2 linked regions of the Homo sapiens genome follow. The protein of the gene in region 1 purifies or fractionates together with the protein of each later gene. This does not show direct contact. Each region holds a gene or a part of one and is shown on either strand. Other genes may lie near its edges.

The links.
Region 2: the proteins of PLA2G7 (region 1) and PTPRN purify together in Homo sapiens (affinity purification with mass spectrometry; 3 studies listed by BioGRID and IntAct, with this or other methods). This does not show direct contact.

The regions. Positions count from the first base shown.
Region 1 is NC_000006.12:46,733,634-46,737,382, forward strand, and holds the start of PLA2G7 (platelet-activating factor acetylhydrolase precursor), read right to left. Parts: upstream 1,743-3,749; 5' UTR 1,547-1,742; intron 1-1,546. UniProt on the Homo sapiens protein: Lipoprotein-associated calcium-independent phospholipase A2 involved in phospholipid catabolism during inflammatory and oxidative stress response.
Region 2 is NC_000002.12:219,289,083-219,292,510, forward strand, and holds the end of PTPRN (receptor-type tyrosine-protein phosphatase-like N isoform 1 precursor), read right to left. Parts: intron 2,442-3,428; coding exon 2,388-2,441; intron 1,809-2,387; coding exon 1,744-1,808; intron 1,530-1,743; coding exon 1,456-1,529; intron 1,216-1,455; coding exon 1,144-1,215; 3' UTR 541-1,143; downstream 1-540. UniProt on the Homo sapiens protein: Plays a role in vesicle-mediated secretory processes. Required for normal accumulation of secretory vesicles in hippocampus, pituitary and pancreatic islets.

The sequences.
Region 1 (3,749 bases):
CAAGGTGGTGCGCTGTCTCACCACTTTCTGCAGGGCCAGCAGAATTCCTCTGTGAGGGAATCTGCCTGGGTGATGGAGGCTCACCAGTGCCTCGTGACCAGAAGGCCATCTGCTTCTTCTTGATCAGGCCAGTGCTTAATGCTCAGATCTCTGAATTCAATGTAAGCTCAAGGTTTCGTGCTGAGCCTCTTGGGATTGCCAACACCTCAGGGGATACATTTTCCAGCTCCTACCCATATACCAGTCTCCCAGCTCAGCATTCTCATTTGGATCAAAAGTAATTTGTGCAAGCCTGATTTGTTAACACATCCCAAATCTGAATCCGTGTGCCTTTTAAAGGTGGCAAGCTGCCATTTATGAGCCATACGCACCTCTCCTTCCTCATCACCACTGCAGTAATCCCAAGAACCACAGGCATGAATAAAAGCCCGAACTTTTCGTTTTTGGTGACAGAAATTTCTCTTACAAGCTCCAGGAGATGATGAGGAAGACAGTGTTCTCTGTTTTCTGATTTTGCTTAATTTTTTAAAAATGAGCCTCTCCCTTGACTTGGTGACACAGCTGTGATCTTATCTGGCCGGCAGGGGGATGCTCCAGGTAGGACAAAGAGTGCTTTGTTTTGTTCTTACAGCAGCCACGCATAACTGGGCTCCAAAAACGCAATACTCCTCAAAGGGAGAGTGAGAGAGAGGGAGAGAGGGAGAAGGGTGTGTGAGAGAGAGAGCGGAGGGAGAGAGAGAGAGGAGGCAGAGTGAGAGGTGTGTAGTGGTGTGTGTGTGTGTGAGAGAGAGAGAGAGAGAGAGAGAGAGAGAGAGAGAGAGAGAGAGAGAGAGAGAGAGAGAGAGAGAGAGAGAGAGACGGAGAGAGAGATTGTCCCTGTAGGAGATCTACAGATAAGAAAACTCCGGGGCGGGCGCGGTGGCTCATGCCTGTAATCCCAGCATTTTGGGAGGCGGAGGCGGGCGAATCACGAGGTCAGGAGATCGAGACCATTGTGGCGAACACAGCGAAACCCCGTCTCTACTAAAAATTCAAAAAAATTAGCCGAGCGTGATACGGCACGCCAGCAGTCCCAGCTACTCGGGAAGTTGAGGCAGGAGAATTGCTTGAACCCGGGAGACAGAGGTTGCAGTGAGTCGAGATCGCGCCTCTGCACTCCAGCCTGGCGACAAAATGAGACTCCGCCTCAAAAGAAAGAAAGAAGGAACGAAAGAAAGAGAGAGAGAGAGAAAAAAAAGAAAAGAAAACTCCATGTGTTCCCTGCCTGTCCTGATTCTCCCCCCAGCTCTGAGCTCTTAGGGTTGCTTCCTTTCGGGAAAAGGTTTGGAAGAACTGGTGTCTAATACCGTCATCCTCTCCCTCTCCCCGCAAGGATCCTAGCGCTGTTTCCGAGGGCTGCAGGGACTGTGAGCCCAGGACCGGCCAGCAGAGCGGGTGCGACTCAGCGAGCCCACCCCGGCCGGTCGCCGCTCCGGGGTCCCGACCTCCAGCGCGGCGACCGTGCCCTTCCTCCCACTCCCGCCTCGCCCCCGGGGCCCCTCCTCACTCAGGCGCGGCGCGGAGCTGCTCGCGGGAACTGGGGTCCCTGGGCGCGTTCCACCGCGCACCAACGCGACCCAAGCGCTCCAAACCCGACTGCTTCTCGCCGACAGCACTGCGAGCCTCCGACCAGCCGCTGTCCCCCTGGCTGCGGGCCGAGCAGCTCTGGCAGGCGGCGGGCGGGTGGGCTGCGCGCGGGCTGTGTCCTGGGTCCGCCTAGCGCGGCCTTGTGGCCCCGACCCTCTCCTCCCCTGGTGATGCTGGAGGAGGTACCGGGGAGGAGCGTGTGTGGCCCCGGCCTCTCACTAGCAGCGGCGGCTCCCGACGCTAGCCTGCTCGAGCGCACCCAGCACCCTCCCCAAGACCATGGCCCGCACCTGGACCCGCGGTTAACTTAGCCCGCCGCGGAGAGAGCCAGGCAATGCCTGGGTGGTGTCGTGCTCACCAGCTCCTTTCCGCAGACCTGATGCCGATCAGATTTACTCCCTGCTGAATTCACCCCCCAGTCAGGCCGGTTTTCCTTGTTTCACCGTGTTCTCTGAATACACTGAATTACTCCGAGCATCTATAGTTGGCAATGCCCTGCGCATTTTCCGCACTCCGATACACTTTACACTGAACACCAATTCGGAAGTTGTGTGGACCGTGCTCCAGATTGGAAGGCCTGCCACTGTGCTGGTGTCATTTCTCCCTGGAAATGACAATGAAGGACAATCAGGAATAGCACTTAGGTCTGAGGAGAAATGGAGCTAGAAGGAGCCGTTTCATAGCTCAGTGTAACACAGAGTTATTTGGGGTTTAACTGAAACGCCTTCCTTCATCTTCCAATGTTTTCTCTTCAATCCACTTTCTAATAAATTAAAAACACACTCATTTAAAACTTCAGCTAGAAACTTAGGGAAAGTAGTTTGAAATTTATGTGTGGTGTTATTAAAATTTTATATTTTTAAATCGTGTTTTGGTTTTTGGTGAGGTGCCAGAACTGGAGATGAAATTTTGCTTATTTTGATTTTGAGTATTCTGCAGTAAGATGGCCTGAATTTTAGCTTGTTTCTCCCACTTATGAGTGGTGTGACCTTGGGGAAGTTCATCATCTCTGCTTCTCGGTCTCCTCATCCATAAAATCAAGAAAATCAAAATCAGTCAGTCAGAGGCAGTTTGTGAGCACGAAATGCAAATACATGTGAAATGCTTGGGACAGAGCTTGGCCTATGGGAAACATTCATTCAATATGTGTTATCTAATATTGATAGCTTAATGAAGCAGTGACTCATTTAAACCTAACAATAGATTTTATTTTTAATTTAAATGGAACTCTATCCGCCTAATGACATTGTCTTGTACTTCCTGGACTAACCCCCTGTAAAACAAATGGCCCACAAATATCAATCTAAAAGGATACATTATGCCCTACCAAAGACATCTCTAACGTCTTCTTTTGACCTTAAGACAAAGGTGAAGACAAAGTTGAAGTTGAAGACCTAATCCCACACTAAAAAGGTGGTAAGCTTTGAGAACAGCTCCTGAAAACAAGTATGCAACATTTTATTCACTTCTCTCATTGCCAGCAACATGTCATCTCCCATTGTCATTAGGTCATATTCTCTGAGCAGCCCCACAGCAGTTGGCATTTGGCAGGTTAGTGCCCTGAGAAGATGCCCAGTGAAGAGTGCCCAGATTTAGCAAATAAAAATGCAGAACATCTGGTGAAATTTGAATGTCAGATAAACAATAAATAGTTTTTTAGTATAAATATGCCCCATGCAATATTTGGGACATATACTAAAAAGTTATTTGTTGTTTATCTGAAATTCAGATTTAACTGGGCTTCCTGTATTATATCTGGCAACCCAGTAAGTAAAATTAATAAAGAATATTCCTCACATTCCAAGAGGATAAGTCAACACAGACATACAGATTATAAGGTGTGTCTGATATGGGTTGTTTTAGTTTTTTATGAGTTGGTTCTTTGTTATTCTGTTTCCTACATTTAATTCCTCCTCTCATTTCCCATTGACATAACAGTACCTATTTCCTCTTTAATATGAATGAAACTGATGTCTCACCTCTTCCCTTCAATCAAGATATTAAATTGTAATAATGTGCTCAATTTCTTTTTCTTTTCTTTTCTTTCTTTCTTTTTTTTTTCTTTTCTGGAGATATGGTCTCACTCTGTCACTCAGGCTGAAGTGCAGTGGCATGATCACAGC
Region 2 (3,428 bases), on another chromosome or scaffold:
TATTTTTAGTAGAGACAGGGTTTTGCCATGTTGGCCAGGCTGGTCTCGAACTCCTGACCTCAGGTGATATGCCTGCCTCAGCCACCCAAAGTGCTGGGATTACAGGCGCGAGCCACCATGGCCGGCTAATTTTGTATTTTTAGTAAAGACGGGATTTCTCCATGTTGGCCAGGCTGGTCTCCAACTCCTGACATCAGGTGATCTGCCTGCCTCAGCCTCCCAAAGAGCTGGGATTACAGGCATGAGCCATTGCACCTTACAATCTTACAAGTTGTGTTACGTGTTACCACAAGCAAGTTCTGTGCCTCAGTCTTTCCATCTGTAAAATGGGACTCATCATGTAAAGCACCTTGGAGACTGCTGGCTGCATAGGAAGCCTCGTTCTAACGTAGTGTTCCCACCTAGAAGGGCCTTACTGGCAGCTGGCGCTCTCCTGCTGTGCTCTCTGCACCTCCTGAGAGACCAGCAGGGACCGGCTCCGGGCTGAGGCTGGGGCTGGAGTCCAGATGCACAGCGGACAGAAATGCGTAGGAGTCTGGGTTGCAGCTGCACAGACAACACACTAACTTTATTCACACTGGTACAAAAGTAGTTTTTTCTAGAAATGTTCTCTTGCGCCAGAAGGAGAGAGGTTGAGCAGCGCATGGTGGGAGGGTGGTGGGAGGAGGCTGGGCGTGAGGCCAGGGAGGGCAGAGCGCCCAAGTGTGAGTCAGAGGCAGGCCCGGGGCTGAGAAGCAGGGGGAGCCGGGTGTGGCGACCCTCCACCCCATTCTTCCATACTGGAGCATAGGGGGACACACACAGATGTTCAGGGAACTCCCAGAACCCCAGGAGAGCTACAGGAGAGCCAGGCCAGGGAATGTAGGCAGGAGAAGGCTCTGGGTAGAATTGCTACCCATGTCCTTTCCTCTCCTCCTGGCTGCAGCACCCCCATGGGATGCCCTGGGCTCTGGGATGCCCCAGGCTCTGGCATGCGAGGCTGGGCAGGCGTGCCCCTTCTGGCTTTCCCTTCCTGACTCTTCTAGGAAGGGCTGAGCATGCCCAAGAGGTGGCTGGTGGGGCAGTGAGGAGTGGGTACACAGAGATGCTCACACAGGCAAAGAGGGACAGAGGCTGGGCTGCCCGCCAAGGGGCCCCAGGGTCTCACTGGGGCAGGGCCTTGAGGATGGCATTCACTTCCTCCGCCACGGCTGTCAGGGCAAATTCAAACTGGTCCTGAGGAAGGGCAGTGGTAGGATGGTCATGGAGAGGGCTGACCTGTGCTCTGCCCTCAAGATGGGGGGCTTTTGGTGGGGGGAGGGCCCTGGGCAGGTCCCCTGGGAGGAAGGGAGCCCTCCTGGAGGAGGCGCAGAAGCAGGTGGGAAAGGTTGGCAGCTGCTGCTTTCCCTGGGGTGGCCAAGAAGTGGGTGCTAGGGAAGGGTGGGAGCTGGGGTTGGGGCAGGAAGGCATGGTCACCTTAGAGCGGACAAGGCCAGGCCGCTGGTCACGGACATGCTCCAGGGTGGCAGCGATGTCAATCTCCTTCACTCCTGGAGATGGAGGTGGGGATGGGGCTGCTCAGGGGGTGTCCAGAGGAGGACAGGACCCAGAAAACCTGAGGCCTCCTGGAGGCAAAGAGCCTTGGAGGGCTGGGCAGAGCCTGGAGGTTGACAACCTGCTCCTTCTGAGCTCCCAGGACCCTGTGTGCTGGGGAGCCTCTAAAAAGGGCCTGGGGGCTGCGGGCACCGTGGGGAAGCTCCCTACCTTTTGCCATGCGGTTCAGGACCATGTCGATGAGGATGTAGGTGCCGGTCCTCCCCGCACCATCACTGAAACAGGAGTTAGTGACAGGTTTAGCTTGAGATGCAGCAGAAAGGGGGAGGGACGGAGGAGGCGAGGAGGCCTGGAGGCCTGGGGGAGGGGAGGACACTGGGTGACCCGTTGGGGTTGGCTTGGAGAGGGACAGTGAGCCGAGGATGAAGGAAAGCTCATAGCACCTGCACGCTGGGACTTGGGCCTTGAGAGGGGAGTCTGTGACCTGTGGGTGTCATTTGGGCAATGGGACAACCAAAGAGGAGAGCCATGGCTCAGCCCAGAAGCAGAGGCAGCAGGAGGGAATTGGATGGGCCTCTCTAGCCTTCAGCCAGCTTTTTGTGTATAGGGGGCCAATGGTCAATATTTTCAACTTTGTGGGCCACATACAGTTTGTATCACATACTTTTCTTCTTTTTTCTTCACCCATTTAAAACTGTGAATGCCACGCTTAGGTCTTGGCCATTAAAAACAGGTGGTGTGCTGGATTTGGACTATGCCTGCAGTTTGCTAGCACCAAGGGGACAGGCAGGCAATGTGCACAGGAGACGCACACAGGGAGTGGGACCAGAGAGATGAATCTCCTCTCCACCCACCTGCAGTGCACGATGATGGGGCAGGAGCGGCCCCGGTAGCACTTGTTCACCTTCCTGCAACAAGAAATGGGTGTGAGGGCCAGTGGGCACCAGCAGAGAGGGAAAGGGAAGCTGAAACACATGACGTGGGCCTCTCTTTCTTCCTTTTCTCCCCACCTGCCCGGGGCAGAGAGGGAAGATGGTTGGAGAAAGGAGCCAGGGCTGGAGGCAAAGAACCAGAGCTGGTGTGGGTGGCATTGGGCTCGCCTTGTCACTTGCAAGCTAGGTGCCCAAGCTATGCACCTGGAACAACTGATTTAACCTCTTTGAGCCTCAGTTTTCTTACCTGTAAAATGGAGGATAGTAAGAAAAACCTCCTTAGGGTTCTTACAATGATCACATGAGATAACCCATGTAAAGAGCTAAGTGCTAGGTCTGGCACACAATAGGTGCTCAATACATGGTAGCAGGTGGCAACTATTAATGATAATACATCATCATATTAAGAGACACTTCTGCCCAAGTCCAAGGGGATAGCTTTCTGGTGACTTCAAGGGTGTCAGTCTTGCCACATCCCTGCTCTGGCCCTCTGCCATTCTTTATGACCACCCAGGCTGTTTTCCTCCCGACTCAGGCTCCAGTGGTCCTTACCAGTTGTGACATCAGGCTGCCCTGGGCATAGTGTTCCCTGGGCCAGGGGAGGACAACCCCAACCCCTCAACTCGGGACATTGTGCTACTGCTTGTCTCCCTGGAGCAGTCTCACTTCAGCACAGGCATTCTGTGGCTGCGTTATATTCAGACTTGGGGTCCCCTTGGACCTCAGACCTTTCTCCACTGCCCCTGACCACAACTCAGTGAGGAGCAGGGGGCTTCTCCGTCTCTCAATGGACCCATCTAACCTGCCCTTGTCCTTTATGACCTTTCTGCTTTGGGAGTCACCTGCATACTCCTGATATCCCTGCAAGCCAGAACCAGGGAAGACCTTCTTAGGGGTTGTCAGATTGAAGTTTGGAACTTCACAGTCCTTCAGCTATAGGACCAGGTGACTTAGAATGGCTTC